Linked DNA regions of Homo sapiens. The protein of the gene in region 3 interacts with the protein of the main gene of each other region in a pairwise test. Each region holds a gene or a part of one and is shown on either strand. Other genes may lie near its edges. The genes, in order: PPFIA1, DYNLT3 and DYNC1I2.

Region 1 (11,257 bases), on a different chromosome or scaffold from region 3:
ATTTAGCTAGTTTTACCTTATTCCAATTCTTCCTAATTTGTTCACTAAAGTTAAGCTTAGCAAGTACCTTGTTTGCAGCACTCAACAAATTACAGTTGTAGCCAATTTTGCATCATATTAGGTTGAAGCAAAAATAATTGCGGTTTTTGCCATTAAAAGTAAAGCAAAATCCGCAAGTACTTTTGCACCAACCTAACAGCAATACTTGAGAAAAGCTTCTGATTCTTTATACCTAAACCTGGACACTTCCAACATTTGGGGCCAGATAATTCTTTGTTGAGGGGGCTCCACTGCAGAATGTTTAGGAGCATCCCTGCCCTAGCTGTGACAACCACAAATACCTCTCAACACCACCAAACACCAGCGTCTCCTCTTTACTCTCCCCCACCCCCGTCCCCCTTCTCCCCGCAAGCTTGACCCTGGTATCTGCCACTCGGCTGTCATCCTCTAGTCCTACACAATTCCGCCAGGTTGTTCTTTTCTACTGCCCTCTGCCCTCGGATTCTAGCATCCTAGTTTGGGCTGTAACACTTCATGCCCACATTGCAGGAACTGCCTCCTAAATGGGCTGTCTTGCACCCTCTCGCCTCCTCAATCCATCCAGCACACCTTCCACTGCAACCAGCTGAAGCTCACCCATCACTTTGACAGGGAACACCCCTGACACAGGTAGACTTCTTTTTCACTAAGTTTGGATTTGATTTGAAGACCTCATTCCTTAGAATCTTCTGAGTTTTGTACCCCCTGCTTCAGGGATTGGCAGATTGGGAGAGAGACTGGCAAAATTTGGGACCTCACCTGCAATGAAAGGTGAACAGTCTCTCTTCTAGGTTTCACACAAAAGAGTTCTTCAAGCAAGAGGTCTTCTAAAAATCTCATTTGTTGCTTTCAAAAAGACTGTAAAAATCACTGCACTCCAGTTTAAAATAAAATCTCCATTTGAAAATGCAACTGAAACTTTAAAATGAAATTAGAGAGAAGCCCAAAGGCAATATTTGCTTTAAAAAAAAAAAAAAGCACTCGGTCAGTCGGTCAGGCATGATGGCTCATGCCTGTAATCCCAGCACTGTGGGAGGCTGAGGCGGGCAGATCACCTGAGGTCAGAAGTTCAAGACTAGCCTGACCAACATGGTGAAACCCCGTCTCTACTAAAAATACAAAAATCAGCCGGGCATGGTGATGCACGCCTATGGTCCCAGCTACTCAGGAGGCTGAGGCAAGAGAATCGCTTGAACCTGGGACATGGAGGTTGCAGTGAGCTGAGATCGCACCATTGCACTCCAGCCTGGGCGACAAGAGCAAAATTCCTTCTTAAAAAAAAAAAAAAAAAAAAAAAGCCAGGCACGGTGGCTCACGCCTGTAATCCCAGCACTTTGGGAGGCCAAGGCATGCAGTGGATCATGAGGTCAGGAGATCGCGACCATTCTGGCTAACATGGTGAAACCCTGTCTCTACTAAAAATACAAAACAAAAACTAGCTGGATGTAGTGGCGGGCACCTGTAGTCCCAGCTACTGGGGAGGCTGAGGCAGAAGAATGGTGTGAACCCAGGGGGTGGAGCTTGCAGTGAGCCGAGATCACGCCACTGCACTCCAGCCTGGGTGACAGAGCAAGACTCCATCTCAAAAAAAAAAAAAAAAAAAAAAAAAAAATCAGCACTCAAAAAGGAAACATACATGGGATCAAGTCATAGAATAAACATTAGGTAGCTGGGCACACTGGTTCATGCCTGTAGTGGTAGCTACTCAGGAAGCCAAGGCAGAAGGATGGCTTGAGCCCTGGAGTTGGAGATCAGCCTAGGCAACACAGCAAGACCCCATCTCCAAAGTAAGACTAAACACCACGCACACAACCTCTCCTACCTCCCTAGCCTCCTTCTTTGCCACTGCCAGATATGTCATCACAAACCCTCCCTCGGTCTGACACAGGGCATGGGGAAGAGTAGAGACTACAGCAGGGTGGAACAGCCCACACAGTGGCCAAGACGGGAATTGGAGGCCAAGGGCTGTGTCTCCCGCTGGGCAGGCCACTTGCTCTACTGTCTTTAAGTGGTTAAGTGACTGGGCAGGGGCAAATGGGGGATTCTGATTAGAAACTGGACAATGTCATGAGAAGCAGACTGGAAAAAAAAAAAAGAAACTGGACAAGGTAGCCTAAGCGAGGTGAGTGGGTTCTGTATGCTCCCTATCAAGTAATGATAACCAATGTCTCCAGACTCCGCATATGCTGCAGACAGAGAGAGCACGCCCGCTTCAGCTCCAGTTTCAGTGATACGCGGGGTGGCCTGTAGCCCGGCAACCCACCAAAAACTAGAAAAGGTGAGTATGACTTGAAAGTCTGCAGGCATCAAAGAGATGCCAAGGCAGCCACAAATGAAGGGACCAACATTCCAAACCAAAGAGAGGCCCACTGAGGTGAGTCCACTATTCAGAGCCCCCACTCTTTCTGTCAGTGCATTTGACAATTTGGAAGGATTTGGGGGCAGTACACTGATAACTGGGAAGAAAACTCAGCAGAAAGTAGAGGCTACAGAGCTCTAGAAAGCCCCAAGGGTCTGGGGAGACAAAAAGAAGTACAGGCCTGACAGTCAGCCAGGACTTAAGGGGCCAAGATCCCAGAGAAAAGGGAGACACAGGAAATGAGCCCAACACTCTGCAAACCTGGCCGAGAAGCTGGGCTTTCAGTAGTCTCATGGCGTTAAGGAGACAAAACTTGGGCTCCAGGACACGCCAAGAAAGAGGGGCCCTGGGAAACACTCCAGGGTTTCAGATGGAACCCCCGGATGGTTACACCAGGAGCAGGAGGTTGGGGGAAGGCAGCTTCAACTGACGCTTACTGACTGAATCCCAGCCTCTGGTCACCCAGGCCCTGACTGAGCTGAGATGATCTGTCCCTACTCTGGGCATGTGCCAGATGACAGAGGGAAACTTTCTGAAGGAAGACAGCATCACCCAGCGCTTTCTACAGTTTTTCATACATAATGTCTGACTCAATTAAAAAAACAAAAATGGGCGTTATCAACAAATGAACCTAGAGAAAAAAGAAAAACAGAAATGGATCCGGAGGTGACCCATATAATAGAGTTATCAGATGCAAATGTCAACTATTCAAAAATATACTTGACAAAAGGAAAAAATTTCACTAGAGAACTAGAATAGTAAAAGGAATTAAGCAGACTCTAGAACTGAAAATTATAACTGAAATTAAGAACTCAATCTATGGGCTAAACAGCAGATTGGACACAAATGAAGAGGGGATGAGTGAGGTGGAAGATGGGTCAGTAAAAAAAATCTGGACTTTAGATTTTGGGCACAATAGCTCACACCTGTAATCCCAGTGCTTTGACATGTCAAGGTAGGAGGCTCACTTGAGGTCAGGAGTTTAAGAACAGCTTGGGCAAAATAGCAAGACCCTGCCTCTACAAAAAATTTAAAAATTAGCTGGGCACAGTGGCACATACCTATAGTCCCAGCTACTCAGAAGGCTGAGGCAGAAGGATTGCTTGAGCCCTGGAGTTTGAGGCTGCAGTGAACAGTGATCACGCGCGCCACTGCACTGCAGCCTCGGCAACAACAGGGTGCCTGTCTTTTTCTTTTTCCCCGAGACGGAGTTTCGCTCTTGCCACCCAGGCTGGAGTGCAATGGCGTGATCTTGGCTCACTGCAACCTCCGTCTCCCAGGTTCAAGTGAGTCTCCTGCCTCAGCCTCCCAAGTAGCTGGGATTACAGGCATGTGCCACCATGCCCGGCTATTTTTTGTATTTTTAGTAGAGACAGGGTTTCACCATGTTGGCCAGGCTGGTCTCGAACTCCTGACTTCAAGTGATTCACCCACCTTGGCCTCCCAAAGTGCTGGGATTACAGGCGTGAGCCACTGCACCCAGCCACCTGTCTCTTAAAAATTTTTATATACATATATATTTATATATATATATGTATGTACGTATATATATATACACACATATATACACACATGCTAGCTCATGCCTGTAATCCCAACACTTTCGGAGACTGAGGCAAGTGGATCACTTAAGTCCAGGAGTTTGAGACCAGTCTGTGCAACATGGCAAAACCCCACCTCCACTGAAAATACAGAAATTAGCCAGGTGTGGTGGCACGCACCTGTAGTCCCTGCTACTCAGGAGCTGAGGTGGGAGGATCGCTTGAGCCCAGAAGGCAGATGCTGCAGTGAGCTGAGACTGCACCACTACACTACAGCCTGGGCAACAGAGCGAGACCCTGTCCCAAAAATATACACACACACACATCCCCCACACACACACAGGCCGGACACGGTGGCTCACGCCTGTAGTCCCAACAGTTTAGGAGGCCAAGGCAGGAAGACTGCTTGAGCCCAAGAGTTCAAGACCACCCTGGGCAACAGAGAGACCCAGTCTCTAAAAACTAAATACACACACACACACACACACACACACACACACACACACACCTAGACACATACACAGAAAAGGTCTAGAAAATACGGAAAGGAGCACAAGAGACACATAGGACATGATAAAAGCCTAATGTATATCACACCATTGCACTCCAACTTGGGCAACAATAGCGAAACTCCATCTCAAAAAAAAAAAAAATGCCTAATGTACACAAAAATGGAGGCCCTCTGAGTGAAGATGAGTGGAAAATAGGAATATTTATAGAGAGAAGAGCCAAAACTTCCAAAATTGATTAGGAACCAGGCCACCAATACAACAAATACCAAGTTTTGCTAATGCCTGAAGCAAAGAAAATGTTACAAGCCACCAGAGGCAGCTTCAAATCCTGGTGTGAGGAATGAGTAGATGGTGAGATCTTGCTGTGTGTCTGATTAGTCCTTTCTCTGCCTTGCCTGTTTGAGCTTCAGCAGAATTGAAAATGGCTGGCAGTAAGGCTGGGAAGGACTCCAGAAAGGCCAACAAAGGCAGCTTCCCACTCACAAGAGAGCCAATTTGCAGTTCCTGGTGGGCCGTATTCACTGACACCTGAAATCTAGGACAATCAGTCCTGGACGTGTGGGCGCGACTGCCGCTGTGAATAGCACAGCCATCCTGGAGTACCTCACCGCAGAGGTACTTGAACTGGCAAGAAATGCGTCAAAAGACTTCACAGTAAAGCATACTACCCCTCATTACTTGCAACTTGCCATTCGTGGAGATAAAGAATTGGGCTCTCTCTTCAAGTCTACAATTGCTGGTAAAGGTGTCATTCCACACATCCACAAATCTCTAATTGGGAAGAAAGGACAACAGCAGACTGTCTAAAGGCTGCCTGGATTCCTTATTATCTCAGGACCCTAAACACTCTACCAGCTGTCCAGTGTGGCTGATTCCAGTGAACTATATCTCTGTGAAAAACACAATTCTGCCTTTCTGTAATTCTACTTGAGCAAGTTGGAAGTTTAATTAGCTTTCCAACCAACAAATTTCTACATTCAAGTCTTAACCATATTTGTTACTGTGGCTTCAAAGAAGCTATTGATTCTGAAGTAGTGGGTTTTGATTGAGTTGACTGTTTTCAAAAAACTGTTTGGATTTTAATTGTGATGGAGAGTTATAGTAACAAACATTTGGTTTTGCACAAACATTATTTCCACTCTGGTGGATAAACTCAGTAAAAGTCATATCCTCTCCAAAAAATAAAAATAAAAAGCAACCAGAGGGGAAAATAAAAAGAAGTATTACTTCAAATGGGACAACAATAACACCAAAAGCTGACTTGTCAAGAAAAAGGAAGCGAGCTAAAAAAACAATGAATTCGCTGCTACAAAATGGTGCAAGGAAATGACCACGATCCCAGTATTCTATACCCAGCAAAATCATCCTTCAAAACTGAAGGCAAATTGGGCACAGTGGCTCACACCTGTAATCCCAGCAGTTTGGGAGGCTGAGGCAGGCAGCTGCTTGAGCCAATGAGTTTGACCCCAGCCTGGCAAACATGGTGAAACATCACATTTAAAAAAAAAAAGGCCAGGCATGGTGGCTCACGCCTGTAATCCCAGCACTTTGGGAGGCTGACGAGGGCAGATCACCAGGTCAACAGATAGAGACCATCCTGGCCAACATGGTGAAACACCTTCTCTACTAAAAATACAAAAATTAGCTGGGCGTGGTGGCACGTGCTTGTAGTTCCAGCTACTCGGGCGGCTGAGGCAGGAGAATTGCTTGAACCCGGGAGGCGGTGGTTGCAGTGAGCCAAGATCACATCACTGCACTCCAGACCGGCGACAGAGCGAGACTCCATCTTAAAAAACAAAACAAAACAAAACAAAACAAAAACTAAAGGCAAAATAGAAAATTTTCAGGCAAACAAAAATGACAATTCATTATCCACAGATATGAACTCAAAGAAATACCGTAGAAAGTTCTTCAGGGAAAAGAAATATAGGCTGGGCGCAGTGGCTCACATCTGTAATCCCAGCACTTTGGAGGCTGAAGCAGGCAGATCACTTGAGGTCAGGAGCTTGAGACCAGCCTGGCCAACATGGTGAAACCCAGTCTCTACTAAAAATACAACAATTAGCCGGATGTGGTGGCATATGCCTATAGTCCCAGCTACTCAGAAGGCTGAGGCAAGAAAATCGCTCAAACATGGGAGATGGAGGTTGCAGTGCGCCAAGATCGTGCCACTGCACTTCAGCCTGGGCAACAGAGCGAGACTCTGTCTCAAAAAAGAAAAAAAGAAAAAAAAAAAACAAGAAATATAATCCCCGGCAGAAACATGAAACAACAATAAAGAATGAAGAGCAACAAAAATGGTAACTAAGAGGATAAATCTAAATAAACATTAACTGTACAAAATAATTATGATACTGCAAAAGTATATCTAAAATTAAAGTACATAAACTTGTAAGATGCAGCTAAAAGCGTGTAGTGGCTCACGCCTGGATCCCATTGTTTTGGGAGGCTAAGGGGGGAGGATCACCTGAGGCCAGGAGTTGAAGACCAGCTGGGGCAATACAGCAAGACGCTGTCTCTATTTTTAAAAATAAATATAAATTAAACTGAAATATATAAAACAATGACACAAAAGGTAGGAGGGAGTTAAATCCAGTTCAAGTATCTAAGGACTTGACCCTGGGAGACACAATGAGACTGTGCCTGGAAAAAAAAAAATATATATATATATATATATATATCTCAATCAAACAAAAAAAAAGCAAAAAAAAAAAAGTAGAAATTAATGCAATAGAAAACAAATGTAAGTAGAAAAAAATGTAAAGCCGAAAGTTGGTCCCTTAAAAGAACTTACAAAATTGACAAACCCCCAACAAGACTGATTAAGAGATAATATATGAATTACTGATATCAAGAATTATTAAAAGGGAACATCACTACAGATCTTGCAGATAATAAGGATTACAAACCACTTTAAACTTACAAATTGGAAAGTCTGGGTGGCCTGAACAAATCTCTAGCGGGGAAAAATGCTTTATCTAAATAGACACATGAAGAAATATTCAAAATCCTACATCTACCTATAAAATTAATTCTAAAATTTTTCCTTCTCACAAGGAAAACCCTGTACCAGCTGGTTTTGCCAAAGAATTATTTCAAACATTTAAGGAAGAAAACACAAATTTCGTAGGAACTCTTCTAGGGAGTAGAAAAAGAAGGAATACATTCCACCTTGTTTTAAGAAACCAGCATAACCTTGATACCAAATCCCAACAAGGGTACTGAAGGAAACTGAAATTATAAGTCAATCTTTCTCGTGAATATAAATGCAATAATCCTAAACAAAATACTACCAAATATAATCCAGTAAAAGGAGAATACATCAAGATCAGGTTGGAATTATTCTACAATTGTAAATTTTTTTTAAAAGGGAGGTGCTCTTTCTCAGGAGCTCCTGAAGTTGCTTCCCCAGGCTACAAACAATATGCAATTAAAAAAAAAAAAAAAAGCAAGGCGCAGTGGCGTGCGTCTATAATTCCAACTACTTGAGAGGCTGAGGTGGGAAGATCACTTTAGCCCAGGAGTTCAAGGCTACAGCGAGCTATGATGGTGCCACTGCACTCCGGGCTGGGTAATGGAGCAAGACCCCATCTCAAAAATAAACAAACAAAAACAGTTAAATTCCCACATAACAGAAAAATCACATGACTGTCTCAAAAGATGCAGAAAATCCATGTTAAGAAATTTAATACCTGCTCATGGTTTTTAAAAAACTCTTGGCAAACTAAGAAGAGGAGAATTTTTACATTTTGATAAAGAATATCTACAGGGCCAGGTGTGGTGGCTCACAGTGGTAATCCCAGCACTTTGGGAGACCAAGGTGAGAGGATCGCTTGACACCAGGAGTTGGAGACTAGTCTGGGCAACCGAGTGAGTACCCTTTTCTTAAATTACCAGATCTCAAGACAGACTATATCTATGGGAATTTAGACATTGTGCTATTTGTGCAAAGATGACAAAAAGATCAAAGGAGCAGAAGAGAGTCCAGAAACAGACCCACACACTTACAGTCACTGGACTGAGATGACACTGCATGTAGTACACTGGGGAAAGAATAGTCTTTTAAGAAATTATGCAAGGTCAACTAGATATCCATTTAAAAAAAGAAAGAGAGACTCTTGGCCCCATCGCATACCATAAACAAAGTCAATTTCAGATGGAAGATTAAAAAATAGTTTTTAGAAGACAATGTAGAATATCTCATGAACTTGACCAAGCAAATTTCTTAAACAGGACACAAAGAGCATTAAACATTACTGAAAAGATGGATCAACTGGGCTACATTAAAAATTTTACACTTCTATGTATCAAAAGATACAACTGAGAGAGTGAAAAGGCAAACACAAGAGTCTAAAAACAATCTGTCATGCACATATGTACTCAGAATATAGAGAAAACTCCTTCAAATCAGTAAAAAACAAAACAGACAACCCAATCAACAGATGGGCAAAAGATAACCGTTTCACAAAAGACATCCAGGTGGCCAGTGAACACAGGTAGAGATGCTTTACCTCTGCATGTTCCTGGCCATCAGGGAGCAGCAAATTCAGACCATACTGAGCCACCTACCAGCTAACAGCCACCAGAACAGCTAAAATGTAAAGACCCAACAATACCAAGTGCTGAAGAGCATAGGAGCAACTGACTTCTCATACATTGCTGGGGTAGTACAAACTGTCACAACCACCACTTTTGGCACTCTCTACTGAGGCTGAACAAATGCACACACCATCATTTGCATTCCACTTCTTTGTAGAAATCCAACAGAAGTGTACACATATCCTCCGGCCTGGGCAACATGGTAAAACCCCACCTCTACAAAAAATACAAAAATTAGCGGAGGGTGGTGATGCGTGCCTGTATTCCCAGCTACTTGGGAGGCTGAGGCAGGAGAATCGCTTCAACCTGGGAGGTGGAGGCTACAGTGAGCCGAGATCATGCCACTGCACTCCAGCCTGGGCAACAGAGTGAGACCCTATCTCAAAAAAAAAAAAGTTTATAGACATCTGCACCAAAAAACAAACAATATTAGGGGAGCACGTGTAAAAACTGGAAACAACCCCAAATGTCTGTGAGCAGTAGAAAGAATAAGTTCTGTCTGTTCGTGCACGGGATGACCAGAGAGCAGGTGAGAATGAGCAAGCTGCATCTCACAAACATGATGCTGACGACAGAATGAAGAAGCAAAACATACAGATTATTTTACTTCACTTAAACAAAGTCAAGAACAGGCAAAAGTAATCAATGGTGAAAGGTCAAGACCTTGGTTAGCTCTGGGGGACAACTACTGGGAATAGTTAGGAGGGGACTTCTAGGAAGCCTGATAATGTTCCATTTCTTGATCTGGGTGGTGGTATGCAAGTGTGTTAACTTTGTGAAAAGTCCACTGAGATGTATACTTACGATTTGTGAATTTTTCTGCTGTATGCTATAGTTATGTATATTTTTAAGTACACTCTAACTTGCCTCCACAATGTGCCAGGAGCACAAATGCACTTCCTGGACTCATTATCTGGTCACACTACCAGCCACCAAAGATGAACCAGATGCCAGGAAAGGGAAGGGTCCAAAACAAGTTTACTTAATAGTTTCCATTTTTGAAAGGCTGGAATCAGGTGCTCAGGTGGTAACGTGAACCGTTGGCATCATCATGTTATCCACTGAACTAGGCATTCCCAGGCTGCTACACTGAGCAGTGCCAGAAACAAATCACTGAGCAACCATGTCACCAGTGTGTGTGACAACCTCCACAGCCTGCGACTAACTGTACAAAACTCCTGTCACTTCCCTGACATGTCTTGTGTGCCCATTCTTTCCAAAACCTACCTTATTAAGTATATTAGTATTTGATATACACTTCAATACGTGTACCTTAAATTACAAATACAATAAAATCCTGGTAAAACATAAATTGGCTACTTCTTTTAAAATTGTAGTAATAAAATTCAACATAAATAAACTTGGTAATTTATAAGATTGAAATAAGAAAAATCTTAATGATTCTTTAATCCAACAAAAAAGGAACATAGAGCGCTAACGTCAAATTATTGTTGCTAAAAAGGAAACCCACGTTTGGCTTATCAATCTTTCAGGAGAACTGACTACAGCCAAGAAACACATTAAGGCTAGTACTTATTCATTTACTAATTTATCACTGCAGACCCATCATGCGAGTATAAATGTGTGCTTATGCGGGTCTACCTGAATGCACCCCAAAGGCACTTATGATGAGTAACGTGGCGCCTAGACAGCTCTGAAACACATAAATAACCCACTTCTCTCCCACTATGCCCCGTGCCACTCACCTTACACTCTTCTAGTTTTTACTTTCTCCCTTTACCTACCATTAAGTAAATCCTCATTCAACTCCATGAGCAAAGTCTTTCAAACACTGGTCCAAATGTAACATACTCAGAGAAACAATTTCAGTTGTTCTAAGCTTTAAAAATCTTTTTTTTTTTTGAGACAGGCTGGAGAGCAGTGGTGCAATCTTGGCTCACTGCAACCTCCACCTCCCGGGTTCAAGTGATTCTCATGCCTCAGCCTCTGAGTAGCTGGGACTACAGATGCGCGCTACCACGCTCTGCTAATTTTTGTATTTTTGGTAGAGACAGGGTTTTGCCATGTTGGCCAGGCTGGTCTCAAACTCCTGACCTCAGGTGATCCGCCTGCCTCAGCCTCCCAGAGTGCTGGGATTACAGGCATGAGCCACCACACCCGGCCTAAGCTTTAAAATTCTCATCTGCCAAGGAAAAAGTTCCTAAGGAATCAATCTCGAGTCTTCTATCCCCTAAAACAAATGTGAC
Region 2 (11,560 bases), on a different chromosome or scaffold from region 3:
GGATAACAGCATCATCTTATCAGGTTGTTGTTAGGATGAAATGAGACAATGAATACCAAGTGCTCAAACAGGACTAGCACAGAGTTAGCATATAAATAATGTTAACTACTATTATCATATTGCTGCTGTTATATTTTATATTTGAGTGATAAAGCCTGGATAATAAAGCACTCATTTAATTCATTTTTAGAATCTAACACACACATGCAGCTTCATTTACTATCATTAGACTCATTTAATTCATTTTTAGAATCTAGCTTAATAATACACACATACACACACATGCAGCTTTATTTACTATAATTAGACCACAGTAAAGATTTATGAAGGCACTAATACAAAATCTTAAGTTGGATAGTATAAAATCTTCACTAATGATAAAATATGAAAAGAGAAATGAAATATTTTAGCAAGGTTGACAAAAGTAATATGGCTCAAATTTTTCTCCTAGAAAGCTCAATAACATGACAAAGTAGGAAGGGTAGTGGCTTAAGGATCAGGGGAATAGAATTTTAATTCTGGCTTTACCATTCCTAAGCTGGTGACCTTTGGACAAACCTATTCCTCTCTTGAGATCACCTTTCCTTAAGGATAAAGTAAGAGCACTCATTTTTCTTTCAGGTTATTTAGTAGGACCACTCCAAGTTTTGCTCTAAACAGCAGAAAACACCATGGGGTGTGGGTGCCACTGTAAATAGCCCTGCTAATTACTATTAATTAACATCTAGCCTAATTAATTACATTAACATGGAGGCCCATGAGACAATGAGGTCCTTAAACAGCTCTGTATTCTCAGTGCTAAACTCAGGACCTGGGCACTTAGCAGGTATTCAACAAATGTTGTTGAAGCAATATTGGTTTTGATATACTCGCTGGGTATCTTAAATCAAATACACTTTAGACTAAATTCTAAGTCATTTGTAGCTCACTTTTTCTTCGACGATTTTTTGGGGAAGCAATTTCTATTACTAACACTAAAGAAAATGTATGCATATTACTGATAAATGGGTGTCTCTGAGTTCAGAAGGAAAAACATATTAGCATAGGGGCTCAGAGCAAGAAATCAAAGGAAAGAAAATAAGATCAATAAGAAAATAAGATCAGTAAGGAAATCAGAAATAACTGCTGAAATTATGTAATCATCTAGGAAGTGCTAAACTGTTTTAAAATGTTGCTCATTCTCAGGCATTTCCAATGTCTCAATGGAAATGTTTCAATGGCAGAAGAGGGTTGGTTCATGGGAAGAGGAAAGATAGACATTTAGCTGCAAGTAACCTGTAGCAAAGCTGAGTTTCTTTGCAGTCTCATATTTCATATAAAAATTCAAGAGAAGCTTGTTTTGACTACATAATGCATCAGAGTTTGTTTTTATTCAAAAATGTTTTCAGTTATATTATTTATATTACTTAACTCCCTCTCACAAATATTCAAGAAAAACTGATGTTCTAAAATGCATCCAGTGACTTCTAGCACCACCTAGCCACTGCCGAGTATGTATTTCCCAGTTGAAAAAGCATGATTCTTTTAATTTGATATAATATTAAAGTAACAGGCATATGGTTTGAAAAATCCAGTAGAACAGAAAAGCTTAGAATGAAGAGTTTCCTTCCCACCCTTTCCTTTCCCATCCCCAGTCCCATTCCCCAGAGGAAACTCATCAGTGTACAACTGTTTTTATTTCTTCCAAGGGTTACTTATGTATCTCCAAATAATGTTTATCTCACTATTTCCTGATTTATGAATTATAGGCAACATCCATGTAACTCCTACTATGATAGATGAAAATTTGGTTCCCTCAGACCACCCGCCCCCTTCTCTCAATATAGTGAAATCACGATTTTTTAACTTAAATATATTTACACTGTTAGAAACATGTTTCTTTTCCACTCTGGATGTTTTCTTCAACGCAGAGGATTGTTCTTTAACATTCCTGGCCTCTTGTCCTGTCAGTTATTCCTCCCCATGGAGGTGGAATGAGTTACCTGGTTGGTGGGTGATAACCATTGTTCTAACATCTCATTTGGGAGTCTCCCAAATGTGTTGAACTTGGGCTTTAGTTTCTCCTTCCCTCTCCACCCAAACCAATGAAAGGCACCAGCCTGAACAAGTGTTTCTCTCTGCTGACTCAAACTTTCTCTTGGATGACTCTTCCCAGGGCTGAACTGAATGGGAGTTAGCAAAACAAGGTACAATCATCAAACTGGTTTTTATCAATAATAAAGGTGGTATTTTGTTCTCTTTCTAATGGCTCTTTTTTCTTTTCATTTGGTTCAGAACTTAAGGAAGAAGGCACTATTTAAATGGAATCCCAAATAGCCCAGCATTCTTTCTTTTATGTTCCATCAACCAAGGACAGTCTTTCCTGACTTGCCACTTTGAAAACTAAGATCACTCCCTTCTCATTACCTCCACTCCCTCTTCCACCTCCCAGTTTCCCTCATTTGTGCTTTTACATTGTAAAGGTATTAAAAACCTTTGCTTTCTACTTTTAATAATTAAATACTCTCAGGCTACATAGATAGAATGCATAATTCTGAAGTATTCAAATATGGCAGGATTTTCAGGTGCCTGTCTATTCCTCTCAGACCTTGAGTTAATTCTAGCTGTGTAAGGCCAGACCTGGGTGTCAAAAAATACCTTTCCCACACTGTGGTCTGTATGTGATACCTCTAAAATAATGAACGGTCCCCTGCCAGAATTAATTCCCAAAGGTAATTTCTTTTCTATTTGCCTAAAAGGAGTTTCAAATATTTTTCTTAAAATTTTGATTCACTATCATATCAATGCTTAAAATATGTTAAATGATCATTTTTTCCAATTATATTGGGCAAAAAAGTGTACATGCCCAAAGGCAGATATTTCTAGGGCTTTTGTTATCTATTTTATACAATATACATATATATTATACATATACTTTACATTATAAAAGTTGACGTGTGTACATATATATGCGTACATATACTTTATAGCATTAACATTTAAAATAATGTTTGCTTTCTGGAATAAAAGTTATTTTATCCAAAAGACAGGGCATCAATTTTAAACCAGTTTTCTAGACTAAGAAAATCCTTAAGCATCTCTTTCAGAATAAGCCTCAAGATGCTGATAGCACACAACAAAATATAGAAGGACCCCTATAAAGAGTTAGTGGATAAATATTTAAAATCTTGTTCTTGGCCGGGTGTGGTGGTTCACGCCTGCAATCCCAGCACTTTGGGAGGCCAAGGCGGGTGGATCACCGGAGGTCAGGAATTCGAAACCAGCCTGACCAATAAGGTGAAACCCCGTCTCTACTAAAAATACAAAAATTGGATGGGTGTGGTGGCGGGCGCCTGTAGACCCAGCTACTCGGGAGGCTGAGACAGGAGAATTGCTTGAACCCAGGAGGTGGAGGTTGCAGTGAGCTGAGATCACACCACTGTTCTCCAGCATGGGTGACAGAGCGAGACTCCATCTCAAAAAACAATAAAATAAAATAAAACAAAACAAAATATTCTTCTTTTAACAGTAAGGTTTCTAAGTTTGTGCTGAAACTCAAAATATAGCTTTTAAAAATCTCCACCAGTGCAGCAAGCTTCAAGAGAAACAAAATGTATGACTCACCTCTTTGACAATATTGTGGGCTTCCTCAGCATTGAAGCCAACCTAAAGGGAAAACAAAAGGTAAAGCTGCTTTCAACACAGGCTTACAAGTATGACGCTACACAGAATATCCTAGGCTGGCCTAGACAGGTGTTAAAGTGTTAAAGGGCATCAGGTCTACAGAAGGGGCCAATCTTGCCCCTAAACACTTAAAAATACTGAATGCTTTCCCTACCTACCTCCCGTGAGGTCTGGGGCAGAGCCTGCAAGTCTACATTTTTTTTTAAAAAAGTGCTTTATACTGGTGATTCTAATGAACATCCTAGATTAAGAATCATTGTATTGTAAAACGTAGGAAATAAGCAAGAGGTGACTATGAGGATGTTATGTGTCATAAGAATATAGAAATGGTTTCAGCTAAGTGAGAGAATGAAGTGGTCCATATGAAGAGAATGCTTAGTAGACTATTTTCAATTTTGTTTTTAACTTATGCTAGGCAAAAATTTCTAGGCAAAAATTCCTTTCCCAAATTAAAGATTATGAAAATACTTGATAACTCAAGATTAATATCACTTTAGTACTATAAAGTGGTCTGACAACTTAGTCTTTTCTTTGGAGTCCCCATCAATAACAGGGAGATAACAACTGACATCATGGGTTTCTGGTGAGGGTTGGGAAAGCCTGAGTCAGTAAGCAAGGGCTCGTAATCCATAAAGCACCTCCTTGCCTAATCCTGGCAAGCATTACCGGGAGCGGGAATGGCAGTGCCACCAGGACCCCGAGACTCCGAGCCATGGGGGCTGCAGCACCCGCGCTGAGGAAGCCAAGGGACGGAGGCAGCAGCGGGAAGACCCGTTTTCGAGGCCCGCCCGGTAGGAGGGCGGCGCCCGTCACCCCATGCCCACTCCTCGCACCCAAGTCAGGCCTCGTCCTCCCAACCCTGCCCCGACCCCACCGTCTGATCCGCGCGCTCCTGGCCACCCCTCCCACCCCGAATCTCAGGACTTTGGGGTGGGGAGAACGGGTCGGGCGGGGCGGATCCCGGGCCCAGGGGAGAGGACCCGGGCTCGGAGGACGCCGCACCCCAACTCTTGGGACCGCCCTCGCTGGGAGACCACCCGGCAAGAGCCCCGCGCAGAGGAAGGCGGGAGTGGGGGGCGCTCCCAGGTAGCCAAGGGGCGGTACCTCGTCGCAGTGGCGATGGTACTCCTCCATGGTAGCGCCGGCTCTCCCTGGGGCGGAGCGACACGCCGGTAGAGCACCGCGGCCGCGCACTGGCCTCCGGGGAGGCCCCACCCCCGTTTATGGCCTAGGGCCTTTCCCTACGCAATCCCCGCCTTTGTGTCGCAGTGGCGTCACCTGGCAGCGCTGGGCGGGCTTCGGGCAACGCCAGGCGTCACTTCAGGCCACGCACTTTTTCCTCGCTTCCTCTGCCCTTTCTGGAAACAAGGGATGAATGTAAAGAACTGGGAATGGCGCCAGTGTGGATCAGATGGGGTGACCTAGTGGCAGTTAGTCTAGACTCCGCACTAGTGGTTGAGTGCCCACTGCTGTGATTACTTGCACGTATTTGTTCATTCACCATCATGTGGCACATAAATGTAGTTAATTTCGTGGTAAACCAGCCACTTTGATTTGTCCACTTACTAGCTATGTTACTTGGAAAAATTCACCTCCCACAGCTTCAGTTTTCTCATATGGAAACTTACCATCATACCTATTTCACTACTGGTTGTAAGGATCTGATGAGAAGCTGTATACACGGCTCCTAAAGTAGATGCTTCTCAACAAGAGAACAATGACTACATTTTAAAATAAATGTAGTAATTTTAAATTAGTAATTTTAAAATAAATGTAGTAATTTTAAATTAGTAATTTTAAAATAAATTACTAATTTCCAGATGATCCTAGACACTTCCTCAAAACCTCACAATAAGTCAGAGGAGTTAGTTCTTCCATCACTGCTTTTATCAAGATGAAACTGAGGTATAGAGAATTTAATTTGCCCAAGGTCATACAGCCAGTAGGGTGTAGAAAAGGGACTTGAGCTCAAGTAGTCTGATAGCAGAGCCCAAGCTCTTAACCACTGTATTACTTTCCTATTGCTACTGTAACAAATTACCGTAAATGTAGTGCCTTAAAGAAACACAGTCCTGTTCTCTTACAGTTCTGTTACCAGTGTAGGGTGTCCAGGTTCTTGGCTCTTTGAACAAAGAATTGGACAAAACGCACAAACAAAGCAAGGAAAGAATGAAGCAACAAAAGCAGAGATTTATTGAAAACGAAAGTACACTCTACAGGGTGGGAGCGGGCAGAGAAGCCGCTCAAGGGCCGGGATCCAGAATCTTCTCTGGTCCAAATACCCCCTAGAGATTTCCCATTGGCCACTTGGTGTGCACCCCATGTAAATGAAGTAGTGGCCCACAATCAGAGGCTGAAGTTACAAAGGCCACACTCCTATGCAAACGTCTGATTGGTTGCAAGAAAGCAACCATCAGAGGCTAAAGTGAAGTTACAAAGTTGCACTTCTATTCAAACAAAGATTTGGCCCATAATCAGTTTGATTGGTTGCAGACAGCAACCAATCAGAGGCTGAAGTGAAGTTACAAAGTTCCACTCCTGTGCAAATGTCTGATTGGTTGCTTTTTGCTCTTTGGTTGCAAAAAGCAACCAATCAGAGGTACTTTAAATTTCCCATCTGCCCTGCAGAAAAGGTGGGGATTTGCAAAGGGAATAGCCTCTGGTCCTTTTGTTACTTAGGCATGGAAGGTATGGAAGGTTAGGGTTTTCCTTTTTTTTTTTTTTTTGAGACGGAGTTTCACTCTTGCTGCCCAGGCCGGAGTGCAATGGCGCGATCTCGGCTCACCCACGGCAACCTCCGCCTCTCGGGTTCAAGCGATTCTCCTGCCTCAGCCTTCTGAGTAGCTGAGATTACAGGCATGCACCACCACGCCCAGCTAATTTTGTATTTTTAGTAGAGACGGGGTTTCTCCATGTTGGTCAGGTTGGTTTCGAACTCCCGACTTCATCGACCTCAAGTGATCTGCCTGCCTCAGCCTCCCAAAGTGCTGGGATTACAGGCGTGAGCCACTGTGCCTGGCCAGGGTTTTCCTTTCAATTTAGTTCTATGAAGTAAGCGTGAAACAGTTTTAAGTTCCCTGCCTCCTGACCCTATTCTCCTGCCTCAGTTCTGGAGGTCAGAAGTCTAAAATGGGCCCATAGAGCTGCATGCCTTCTGGAGGCTCCAAGACAGACTCTGTTTCTTTGCCTTTTCCAGCTTCTAGAGATTGCCTGCATTCCTTGGCTCATGACCCCTTCCTCCAAATTCAAAGCCAGTAGTATCTTTTCTCCTCTCTCGCTTCTGCTTCAAAGGAAGTGTGAGGCATCTCTATAAACGAGAGATGTATGACTCTTGCCCTCCTGTTTCCCTCTCAAGACCCTTAACTTAATCACATATGCCATGTGTCTTTTGCACTCTGTATCATATTCACAGATTCTCAGAATTCAGATGTGGACAAATTTGAGGGGGAGCATTATTCAGCCAACCACAACACTTTTCTATTTTGCTCCCCAGAATCAAAGTTGGAAACCATTAGTCTTCTAGTCCATCTCCCTTATTTTACAAGTAAAACTGAAGCTGAGAAGATAAAGTAACTTCTACAGGGCACATAGGTGTTAACTGGACTCCTGGGCTTCTGAACCTCAGGCTCTTATTTTATGAACTTAGAACCAAACAAGGCTGTTTACTTGATAGTATGGTGTTTGTTATTGGTTCTCCTAAGTTGTGGATCATGCAGGGTTACTGCAGAAAAGTGACTGTAATTCATAGAGGAAGCACATCCTCTTTCAAGAATTTTTTTTACCAAAGTTTTCATCCTATGAGCAACTCCGGCAGTCTATTCATGAGAAGGATTCGTAGTGTCTTTGTGAACATCAGTTTTATTTCCCTAAAGAACTGTTTCTATGCCTGGGTGGGTTAAACCCTGAAGTTACCTAATCTTAATACTGCAAGAGCTACACCAGCACATCTCAAGTTTGTGTTATGTGATCATTCATGATGCATATAAAGTGAGATGAAGAAGTGTTGTTCCAGTTACCATTCCTGTGTAATAAATTACCCCAGAATTTAGCAGCTTATTTACTATATTATGCTCATGGATTCGTTTAGTCAGAAATTTGAACAAGGCACAGCAGAAATAATTTGCCTCTGCTCTGTGATGTCTGGGGCCTCAGGTGGGGAGACTCAAAGACTGGAGGAAATTCAATGGTGGGGACCAGAATCATCTGAAGACTTGTTCATTCACATGTCTGATATCTGGGCTTGGATGAATAAAATATTAGCACTTCCAACTGGAGCAACAACACATGGCCCCACCGAGTGGATTGGCTTCTTACCATCATGGCAACCTTAGGGTAGCCAGATCTTTTACATGGCAACTCAAGGCTCCAAGCATGAGGGTTCCATCGAGCATGGCAGAAGATATGTCACCTTTTATCACCTAGTGTCACGAGTTACACAGCAGCCCTTCTACCATACTCTAATCATTGAAACATTCACTCAGATTCAAGGGGAGGGGACACATAATCCACTTCTCAATGGGAGAAGTGTCAAATAATTTGGGGCTCATGCTTTAAAACTACAAGTGGGTTTATTAACTAGCATCCTGTGGTTGCAAGTAACAGAAGACCCAAATAGGATGAGCTGAAATAATGGCATTTATTTTTTTATATAACCAGACTGATATGGTTTGGATCTGTCCCCAGCAAATCTCATGTTGAATTGTAATCCCCAGTGTTGGAGGTGGAGCCTGGTGGGAGGTGATTGGATCATGGAGGCAGATTTCTCATGATGGGTAGCACCATCCCCTCAGTGCTGTTCTTGTGAGAGTAAGTGAGTGAGTTATTATGAGATCTGGCTGCTTAAAAGTGTGTAGCACCTCCCTCCTCTCTCTCTTCTTCCTGTTCTAGCCATGTAATATGTGCCTGCTTCCCCTTCACCTTCCACCATGATTGTAAGTTTCCTGAGGCCTCCCCAGAAGCAGGAGTCACTCTGCTTCCTGTGCAGCTTGCAGAACCACGAGCCAACTAAGCCTCTTTACTTCATAAATTATCCAGTCTCAGGTATTTCTCATTGCTGTAAAGCAATGAGAGAATAGACTAATACACAGACATACAGAGGCAGAGATATTCCAGGTTCGTTTAGTTGCTCAACAAATTTTGGGGCTTCTGTGCTTTTCATCTTTCCATGCCAATATCCTCAGCATGTCAGCAACATTTAGCCTCATGGTCATACACGGCTGCATTAGTTCTGGTATCGCTAGGAACAAAGATATCACGTTCAGTGACTAAGATGAGCATTTTCTGGGGTTGATCGGATTTTCTTAGGAAAGAAAATCTTTATTTCAAGTCCTCAGGAGTTTTCTCCTCAGGTTCCAGTGGCCAAGATTGGGCCACGTGACTCCCCACCGGGCAAAACATATGGGACAACAAATGTTTGTTTTTTCATTCTGTATGGTGAAAAGTGAGTTCTGCCAGCAAGAAAAAAAAAATTGATATAAAGTAAATGTTGGTAGGTCAGTCCTTTCCAAACTTTTCCATGCTATGGCCCACATAGAGGATAATACTTACATGGTACATTGAGGTAAACTGGAGGGGCTTGGTGGGCATCTGTATGGGGCTTGGTGAAAAAATATTTTCATTACTTTATATAATTATATGAAAAAATAAAATAGAAAGGGTGTTAAAATTGAATTTTTTAAAGCTTCCAAATAAAACCTCTTTCAATGCTTTAGTGAGACCCTCAATCTTGGTTTCACCCATATAATATTTTATATCTGGCTCTACGCATTGAACAGCCATAAGCAATTCCTGTTAATGAGTTTTTAATAATTAATTTTCCCTAAATATGAATAAATTATATTGTCTAGAAAGGTTTGCCATAGAAGCAGCTGATAAAAAACATTTGGACCCACTTTACAAACCACTAAAATTATATTTAAAGACTTCTGTAATGGTAGACTATGTAATTAGGACCATCTCTTTCACTGATAATTACAAAGGTTGGACAAAATATAATAGACATTTGCTCAAGGGAATTGGATTTTTTAACAAGATAGGGAAGAATTATGGATCTAAGACATAGAATAATGAAACCCAGAAAGATGAGCATGGCATTTGGGATAACTTTTTACCTCGAGGTGAGAAGATGTTAAGCCTTTTGCTTATGGGCCAAGGGGTAAAATAATCAGACTGCATGTCCTGCCAAGGAAGATGATTCTGGTAAACAGTCTTGCTTTGGGTTGAAACCCCATGGATTAAACCCTGGGAGTGAAACACTCAAACTTGATCTTGCAGACTGAATCTCAGTTTTAAATTACCCAAACCCCTAAAATTGAATTAAGGTGATCCGGAATTGCTAATGCCTCTAGCCAACTTCTAGAAGCCAATGTAAATTCTCTCTGAAGGAAGAAAACATTATCTTAGGTCTCAAATCAGACATATGATTTTTTGCATACATCAAGTGGACAATAAAATATAACTAGACACATAACGAGACAAAACAACATTATCTTAAATCAAAAGACAATGGAAACAGCCCAATCAGGGATGAAGATGATGGAGTTATCAGAAATAGACTTTAAAATAACTATGCTTACTATATTAAAAGAGATAAAAGACAGGGTTGAGAATTTCATCCAATAACTTGAAATTATAAAAAGTATACAAATGGAATTTCTAGAAGTAGAAAATACAGTAACCAATTTTTTAAAAAGAACAAAGAATCGATTCTATAGTGGTTCCTACAAAGCTGAAGATTAAGTGAAGCTTAAAAAATTGGACAGAATAGACCGGGGCGCAGTGGCTCACGCCTATAATCCGAGCACTTTGGGAGGCCAAGGGGGGCAGATCATGAGGTTAGGAGATCGAGACCATCCTGACTAACATGGTGAAATCCCGTCTCTACTAAAAATACAAAAAAATTAGCCAGGCGTGGTGGTGGGCACCTGTAGTCCCAGCTACTCGGGATGCTGAGGCGGGAGAATGGCTTGAACCCAGGAGGCAGAGCTTGCAGTGAGCTGAGATCATGCCACTGCACTCAAGCCTGTGTGACAGAGTGAGACTTTCTCTCAGAAAAAAAAAAATGGACAGAATAAAATAGCCAGAGTAAAGCACAGAGACATAAATTAATGTAAAATACAGAAGAAAGCATACAGACAAAAGTAATACCATGAGAAAGTTTAACATACATAGTGAGATTTCCAGAAGGAGATGAGACAGAATGGACAGAAACAATATTTAATGAAATATTAGCTGAAGGTCTTCCAAAACTGATGAAAGAACATATTAGTCAGAGTCTCTGTAGGAAGCAGATGAAACTCCCAAAATATTAATTCAGGGAGGATTTATTTACAATGCTGTGTGCTGGGATGGTGGATATAGCAGATCTATAAGGAATAGGTTCAGGAATCCAGTATAGCCTATCACTTTTCTCCATCAATATCCATCCACTTGCCCAGCTACAGAGGCAAGGACTATAGCAACTATTCTGTGTTACTTCATCCCCTCTCCCTTTTACCTCCACTGATCATAGCTAATGTTTTTGATTGCAGGTGGTTGTGTGACCAACTTAAATGCTATAATAGATGATGCACCTCCTCTATATGTCAAGCAGCACATTTTGTGCTCTACATCTACTATATTTCCAGGGACTCTGTGATTACAGTTCCAATTAATGTCAACAATGTCATGGATCAATGTGATGTGGTACAGCTCTAAGATATGAGGGACTCCCTTAAATCTGACGTGGAGGTCTTCTAGTTTTTTATTATTATTATTTATTTATTTTTTAGATCTAGTCCTGAATCCAGACTTTCTAGTTTTTTAATTCATGTTCTTCATTTCATATTTATAACTCTTATATTTTCCCTATCTGTACTTTCTAAAGCTATAATAAAGCACCAGGTGACTCCACAATCTT
Region 3 (8,447 bases):
AATGTTGAAATACTGGGGTTGTGGAAAAGACATTTAAAAATACACCGCCCAGTGAGTGGCAGGTGACCACTGAAATTTATGGCAGCGCTTTAGGGAAAAACAAACAAACAAAAAAACCTACTGGCTTTCTGACTTAAAAGTAATGCACTACTCAATATAAAGCAAAGATAGTATGATATGCTTCACAGCAGATTTTCACTCATCCATTCAAGTCTTTCTGTATGGTTCAAGGGGTGGATATTAGTCTATCCACACTAGTACAGAACAGACTAAAACATTTTAACAACACTGAAAGACTAGGACCAATCATTCCTAAAACGACTTTCCTATAGTTCCTCCCACTAAATTTTAAGTCATCCATTCCTTTGAGATGCAGTATTTCAGCATTATTGTAACAACATTTTATACAAAGAGATTTTCTAAACTTTATAGGGAGCTGGATCTGTAAACAGGAAGAAAGCTTCTACCAATGCATATTTGGTTTAAATAATACCAAAAAATGATTATTTCAGAGATTTATTGCAAGTTAATTGTCTGTGAAGCTGGATATTCCTTAACATGAAGGTAATAAACTTTAACGTTCCACTCAAAAAGACAAAAACCAAACAACGAAAAATAAGAAATTAACCAGAAAGCTATAGCTTGTTTTCTTACTCAGAAAAAAAGTATAACTGATAAGGTACAATTTCTGTAACTGGATATTTTTCAAAATTATAAGGCTTTTAGTTCTAAAAGTATAAAGAACTGTGATGCACTTCTAGTCAACCTAATCTTGCTAGAAGCTTTATCAACACTGACAGTCTCAATACTTTCTCTTTTGCTATTATATAGTCAACTTTAAAGGTAATTCCTTAAAGTAAATTTGTGTGTTCCTAAAAATATGGACTAAAGTTGAATGGGCAAAGGTATACATCGCATTTTCTGGGGGAGTAGGGGAGAAGTCATTCCCAAAAAGTGAAATATTTAAACAATTTTATTCTTTCTTTCACAACTAAACACACCTTGAGGCTGAGGAACATGTGATTTGCCATATGATTTCCAACCTTTTCTTATCCATTATGTTTTAACACTTGTTTTCCCTACTTTTAGTCATTTTTACAAACTGAAGGTAAAGATACAGTAACTACATGAGTAGTGAGTACATGAATTTTTCTATATAAAGAAAGTGTGACTCTACTAAAATTGAAGTTTTGACTCACAGACACTGCTACAATGAGATAACTTGAGATATTGTCTTTGGTATATAATGGGCAATTATGGGGTATTAATTTATGAAACTGAATATAGAAAAGTAAAGAATTGCCTACTTTTCTATATTCCATTTCACATACTGATACCCCTTAATTGAGTAGAGCTGAAAGAAAATTCAGAAATCATTAAATCAAAACTTAATTCCTACATATAAAGAATGCGGCACAGACTTGGCTAAAATCACACTTCTCATAGATGCTTCAGCAAGAATCAGAGTTTGGGGCCAATAATTCCAGGTCAATTATTCCTTACACTATACACTACTCATTATTTGGAAATTTCTCTCCCAACAAATCTTTGTTACAATTATTAAAAGAAAAATGTTCACATTCTGTTTTCTAATCTCTCTTCCTAGTTCATGTTCTGTTGAATAAAAGACAGTTACACTTCAGAAGTACAAAAGGTTGGGATCAAATAAATAGACAATTTAAAGTAGATAAAATCAAGATCTGATCATAGTCCTTTCCTCTATTCCTGAAATTCACTGATTTCAATACTGATTCTTAGATATTTGTCACCTACCTTTCGGACTTGTAGACAATGCTGTGGCAACAGATCTCAAGATGTAGATTTTAATGCCAAAGTATGGGTCCATTTGAGCACTTTGCCTTTATGGCTACTGAAATCATGAAATCAATTTCTCTCAAAGATTTTACTCTCAGTGAGGTCACATACATAGTTCTTAATCAGTGAAAATTATAGGCAGCTTTCTATTTATCCTTTAAAGGAAATATGTCTTAGATGGAAAGAATATAAAGTAGTAAAGCAAAAGTTAACCTAGGGGAAATTTTTTCACCAACAGATTATCTAGACATCAATTCATAATGCACTGGGAGATCTATAGTATATACCACATGGTATATTTAGGGTACACAGCTCTATAGGATTTGAGATGGCTGCTCACAGCAGGAGCTTAAAGAAAGATATGGAAAAAATATATTTTATAAAAGATGGAAAAATTCAAGTTGTAAGGAGTAAAAATGAAAATTTGAAAAGTTAACGCATATTTGTTTTTATTTATAGGTAACTACCACATGAATTATAAAGACAACAAAGGATGTCAGAATGAACATGGATAGGTGTATGCATACTACGGCTAAGGAGAAACAATGTTCCTACATATTATGGGTAGTGAGAACATTATCTGTATAACAGGGAACTGTGATTATTTAAAAATATGCAGAACTTATTTCATCTGTGCTTTAGAAATAACTGTATACAGTGTTATAAGTTGAAAAGAACTCAAAATAACTAATACCAAATATACACCTATGTATTAGAATTCAAAAAAGCTGCTTTCTGTGAAGTCAATCAGCTATATTAAAAAATGACACAAATCCAAAACAAGATGCATGTTATATATAAAGGGACATTGTAAGTTTCCTTGCTGCATTAAACCCATGGTTTAATCCATGAAATTTCCTTTTAATTATCATTTAGACAGAAGCATGCAAATAGTCTCAGGATCTACTTAAGAACCTTTCCCAAATCCACTAGTTACACTCCCCTTTTCAGGAACTAAGCAGGTATTCGGGTAGCTGCTTCCTCCTCTGCATCAGCTCGGTTTGCATTAATTTCTGCAAGTGTTCGGCCAAACCGTGCCCATTCATCATTGCGGGGAACAGCAATCTGCTGTTAAAAGAAAGACAATGTTTTATATACAATGAAATAAAAGATCATTTTACCCACTATTATTCAGTTTGTTTTCAAATAATTTTTCTGTTAAAAAGTAATAATTGACCTGAATGGCCTTTCCATAATTACGGGGACTATAACAATGATTTACAACATTTCAAAACAAAAGACGGTGTTTGTGAAGTGTGTTGTGACAGCCTCAGAAATGACTTGGCTATTATCACCACCAATGCAAGAGAGAATAACAATGATGCTTTGTAAATATAACTCCTATGCACCATCTCATGGATTTTGCTGGAGAGGAATTCCTTAAAATTTTTTTTTTACTGTATTCTTGCAAAATTCCTAGTAAGAAACAGTGTTTGAAGCATGGTTCATAAGGGGGCTCGTTTCTTGTAAGTATTTTTCTTTGGAACATAAGGTAATCTTTCTTGATACCTTAACTCCTTCATCAAAAGCTGTGCTACTATTTACCACTTTAGTGCTGCACTGGTGGCAAAAGAGCCTTGTGATGCTTTACTTCAGAGGCAGCCCAATAACATATATATATATATATATATATATAATTTTTTTTTTTTTTTGAGACAGTCCCACTCTGTTGCCCAGGCTGGAGTGCAGTGGCACTATCTTGGCTCACTGTAACCTCTGCCTCCCAGGTTCAAGTGATTCTCCTGCCTCAGCCTCCCCAGTAGCTGGGATTACAGGTATGTGCCACCATGCCTGGCTAATTTTTGTATTTTCAGTAGAGATGGGGTTTTGCCATGTTGGCCAGGCTGGTCTCGAACTCCTGACCTCAGGTGATCCACCCGCCTCATCCTCCCAAAGTGCTGGGATTACAGGTGTGAGCCACTGCGCCCGGCCCCAATAACAAATATTTTTGATAACTGCCATTATAATATCATAGGAGTCTGACACTGTCATGTTAGGGCACAAACCACTCACTGTGGCAAATGGCTGTGCCTGTTTATAAATCTACACTATCCAGTAGGGTAGCTACTGGCCACATGTGACTGTGTATATTAAAATTAATTAAAATTAAAAATTCAGTTACGCAGTTGTAGTAGCAACACTTAGAGTGTTCAATAGCCATATGTGGCTAGAAGCTACCATATTAGTGCAGGTACAGAACATTTCCATTTGTGCAGATAGTTTAATTGGCTGCTGTAAATGATTAAATCTACCTCCCACCAGATCCAATTGCTAGAGGCCATGGGATATCCAGAGAGGAGAGAAATCATGAGGCATAGCAAAGGAAAGTGACTAAGGTCACTTTTTTAACCCCTAGCCAGGGTTAAAAAAGAGGAAATCCATCCTGGGCTTTGTGTTCAGCCAATCAGAGCAGCAAAGATGAGAGAGCTGCAGCTCATCCTATTGGATTCCATTACTGTGGCTTTGCATCAAGGCTTAAGAGTCAAGATGCACATTGCATAAAGTCACAGATGGTTCTCAAAAGATACTACTTTTGGTTTCTACTACCTGGCCCAAATTAATGAATACAGAAAAATAAATCTTATTTCAATATCAATAAAACCCCAAAGTCCACCTATAACTCCAAACTTCTCCCCAAAGAATTTCTAATTTCCAGCAATGCATGCTTCAAGAAACAAGGTATTTTCAATGTATTTATTGTATTACCCTCAAAATCTGTTGCATGGGAAACAGAACATTCGGTTTAGAAAGAAAATGTTTCAAGAGCTGCTTCTGTGGTAGAAAGTAAGTTTTATCTTTACAACCATATAGTTTAAACAACTCATAAACCTCAAAGCCTAGGGTTAGCCACAAAGATGCCTTTACTACAATGCAACTAAATCGATGTGTCAAAATTACAGGCAGGGAGTCCCATACCTCTCCCACATCGTATATAACAATCTGTCCTTCAGAATCACCCACAGCAATCTCTCTGCCAGAATGGGTCCATCTCACACGATTAAGAGCAGGATTACCCTCCACAGAAATGCTGGCAGTTGGTACCTAAAGTCATTTAAAATAAAGGACAGTGTTAAAAGTTTCATCAAGATTTCTATAAACATGTAAAACAGTAATTCTTCTCTCAAGCTGGCTACATTTTTAAAAACAAAGATGAAAACAGGTAAGAATTTCCCCAACTTTCTTCTTCTTCAGTGATATATTATGAATGACATTATAGTCGATCCTTGAAAATGGTTTGGGAAAATAAGTCTTTGTATAAAAAATTCTCAGAAGACTAGACACATTATTTTGAAAGGTCTTCTCTTGAATAAAGAATCCTTTTTTGTTGTTTTAATGTCTTTAAGAAGTCAAGCTGTTTGAAAACACATGGCCAAAACCCATTTAAAAAGAAAACACTTCAAAAGCCCTCATAAGCAGATTATGGTTCAGTTGTAAAGGACAAGAATCACTTGTGCAGCATGTATCTCTATCAGCTGAAACCTGTATTTGACTCAGTGTTCCTAGAAACGGTTCATACTGAAGGTGCAGTATGAGTCTGTCTAAAGCCTCTTGTTCCATGAGCTAGCTGGAGATAGCCAGGATGATGGCACCAACACAATGGCACCAGCTCCCTGGAATCTGACTGTGCCTCTTCTTTGCTAAGGAAGAAGAGTTTTATTTGCTACACATGGAGCAAACATTCAGTGTTTGGATTCAGACTAAAAGTATGATAAAATTTTTAAAAAATTTTGAAATTTGACAAAAAAATCCTTCTAATTTGTACTAGTCATCCCCAAATAATTTAACCCCATACACAGAATACCAAAATTGTTATAAAGAAATATTAAATTTCAATCCACATTTAATTGTAACTTCAAATCTCTAAGACTAAAATCCAAATTAAGAAAACAGAATTGGTACCATTCTAGCTAACTAGGAAGAGATGTGGGAGATCTGAGTTGACTCTCTCAACAATTGTTATTGACAGAAATGCTAATATTAATTATATTACTAATAGCAATATAGAATAGAATTCTAAGAACATTTTTAAGCTTCTCTAAGCTGGTAAAAATACATGTGACTAAAAATAAATAAGAGTTGCAATTAAATTTAATGGCTAATAAGTGATTTTAGTACAGCAATTAGGAAATCTGATAGTTTCTATATTCATTTTATAGTAACACTCTGTTTTCAATCCTTCATAGAAAAAACTCATCAAAAATCAAAATATATTTTTCCTTCCTTCAAACAAATCAGGCTAAGATTAATGTTTATGGATGATATACAATGCTATCAAGGCTAAGAGATAATTTAGAAATTCAGAATTAAGGTTAACATACTTCAACAGTCTGAAACTATCTGCTTTCTAGCTTATGAATGAAAAACATCCCAGTTATCTTATGAATGAGACTTTGCCAGGACATTAGAGACATGATAGTGCTTTTCAGAAGTAAAAGGAAATGCCCCAGTGCTCCTGGCAACATTATTTCTCCCTTTAGTTCTTCGCAGCATGCTGTTTATTATTTAGGGTACAAAGCTTATTTGAGTTCTTTGTGATGAATCTACAATCACAGAACCCTTTTACATTCTTTGGAAAAAAAGGAATTTCACAAATTATTCAATAAATATCCAATTTTCTATTTTTCAATGCAATTTTTGTTATTTTCCTGCTCACCTCTGTGTCATTATTGAGATTCCACAAATCCAATCTCCCCATGCCATCCACACAGGCAAACAGGGCTGGGTGGGTAGGTGACCACATAACATCATAAACATAGTCTGCATTATCTTCAAATGAATACAAAGGCTTGTTATTCTGAAAGAGAAAAGTTGATTCTTAGCACAGTCCATATATGACATACAAATCATTAAACTACTTATCACTGGGAAAAAAATGACATACATTCAACAGGTATGATAACATTTTATGATATTTAACTCAGCCTAGAAAAAGTTCCTACAATTTGTTTCACTACAGAATTACCTGGTATTGTAAACTAAGAATCAACTATTGATTGCATTTTCTTTTTAACTTGTAGATGCCATACTGTTTAAAAAAAGAAATAGAACATGCTTCAAGAACATCTGTCAATGAGAAGATTCTGGGAAGATAACAGCAATAGCAGTGTACTTTTTAAATCTCCTCTAGTTCTCCCCATAAACTCAGATAAAGCAATGAGGGCAGGAAGAGCAAAGATTCACAGACAGCATCTACAGCAGAATCAGGAGACAAACTTCCAAATAAAATCAGGTGGAAACAAACCTCTCACAACTACAAGACTTGCATGGTATCAGTATCTGTGTGGGAAGAAGATGAAGGAAGGCACGAGAACTTCTGACAGGTGGAGAACAGAACCTCACAGTCATAGCAGATGCTCACTGGACAGTGTGGTGGGCTAATCTGAGAACAGCAGCAAAAACTAGGGGGCAGTTTGGCACAATTCCATTTATAAATACATTTGACCCTTGAACCATATAGGTTTGAACTGCAGAGATCCACTTATACTCATATTTTCTTCTGCCTCTGCCACCCCTGGGACAGCACAACCAACCCTTCCTCTTTCTTTTCCTCCTCAGCCTACTCAACTGTGAAGATGATAAGGATGAAGACCTTTATGATGATCCACATCCACTTAATGCATAGTAAATATATTTTCTCTTCTTTATGATTTTCTTAACATCTTCATTTCTTTAGCTTGCCCTTAAGATGACAGTATATAATACATATAACATAAAAAATATGTGTTAATCAACAATTTATGTTGTCAGAAAGGTTTCTGGTCAGTAGTAGGCTATTAGTAGTTAAGTTTTTTGGAAGTCAGAAGTTATATGTGGATTTTGAACTGCTGGGATAGGCGTTGGCACCCCTAAGCCCTGCATTATTCAAGGGTCAACTGTAAATGCAAGCAGACTACAGTGCAGTATAAGTAAGTTCTCATGGTACAGTCTGGGTGCTATAAACTCTCAAAATTAACAAATCAAAGTTCCTTTCCAAGACAAAGTCTCACAGAAGAGAAACTGCTGGGAGTAGAATCCAAGTTGTAGAATGCCAGACAAAAGAGACAAAGCAGTAAGTTCAGACAGAAGTGGTGGAGAGAAGCAGAAAAGGCACATCTCAGAAAGCACAAGGTACATGTATTCTCACTTTGCAAAAGCCAGAGAAGAGACAGCTTTAACCTAGAAAATGAACTAGGAAAGTTATCCTTGCCCATTCCCTCCCTCCTAAAAATACACAAAAATTCATTTCACTAGTAGACAATAGCAAAGAAAAGGATCTCAGTCAGATTCCATAAAAGTTATTGTGGTGTCAAGAAAATTAGATAGGAAAGGAATAGTCTTTTCAAGAAATGGTGCTGGGAAAACTAGATATACATATGCAAAAGAATAAAGCTGGCCCAGGTGCCATGGCTCATGCCTGTAATCCCAGCACTTTGAGAAGCCAAGGTGGGTGGATCACATGAGCTCAGGAGTTTGAGACCAGCTTGGCAACATGGCAAAACCCCATCTCCACAAAAAATACAAAAATTAGCTGAGCATGGTGGCATGCACCTATAGTCTCAGCCACCCTGGGGGCTGAGATGGGTGGATGGTTTGAGCCCAGGATGTCGAGGCTGCAGTGAGCTGAAATCACACCACTGCACTCCAGCCTAGGC

What was found.
Region 1: the proteins of DYNC1I2 (region 3) and PPFIA1 interact in binary tests that used the Homo sapiens proteins (3 or more experiments, as listed by UniProt).
Region 2: the proteins of DYNC1I2 (region 3) and DYNLT3 interact in binary tests that used the Homo sapiens proteins (3 or more experiments, as listed by UniProt).

What each region holds. Positions count from the first base shown.
Region 1 is NC_000011.10:70,272,913-70,284,169, reverse strand, and holds part of PPFIA1 (liprin-alpha-1), read right to left. Parts: intron 5,556-11,257; exon of another isoform or gene 4,767-5,555; intron 216-4,766; exon of another isoform or gene 100-215; intron 1-99. UniProt on the Homo sapiens protein: May regulate the disassembly of focal adhesions. May localize receptor-like tyrosine phosphatases type 2A at specific sites on the plasma membrane, possibly regulating their interaction with the extracellular environment and their association with substrates.
Region 2 is NC_000023.11:37,842,714-37,854,273, forward strand, and holds the start of DYNLT3 (dynein light chain Tctex-type 3), read right to left. Parts: upstream 4,859-11,560; 5' UTR 4,798-4,858; coding exon 4,768-4,797; intron 3,646-4,767; coding exon 3,604-3,645; intron 1-3,603. UniProt on the Homo sapiens protein: Acts as one of several non-catalytic accessory components of the cytoplasmic dynein 1 complex that are thought to be involved in linking dynein to cargos and to adapter proteins that regulate dynein function.
Region 3 is NC_000002.12:171,742,212-171,750,658, reverse strand, and holds the end of DYNC1I2 (cytoplasmic dynein 1 intermediate chain 2), read right to left. Parts: intron 6,611-8,447; coding exon 6,470-6,610; intron 4,858-6,469; coding exon 4,732-4,857; intron 2,884-4,731; coding exon 2,770-2,883; 3' UTR 501-2,769; downstream 1-500. UniProt on the Homo sapiens protein: Acts as one of several non-catalytic accessory components of the cytoplasmic dynein 1 complex that are thought to be involved in linking dynein to cargos and to adapter proteins that regulate dynein function.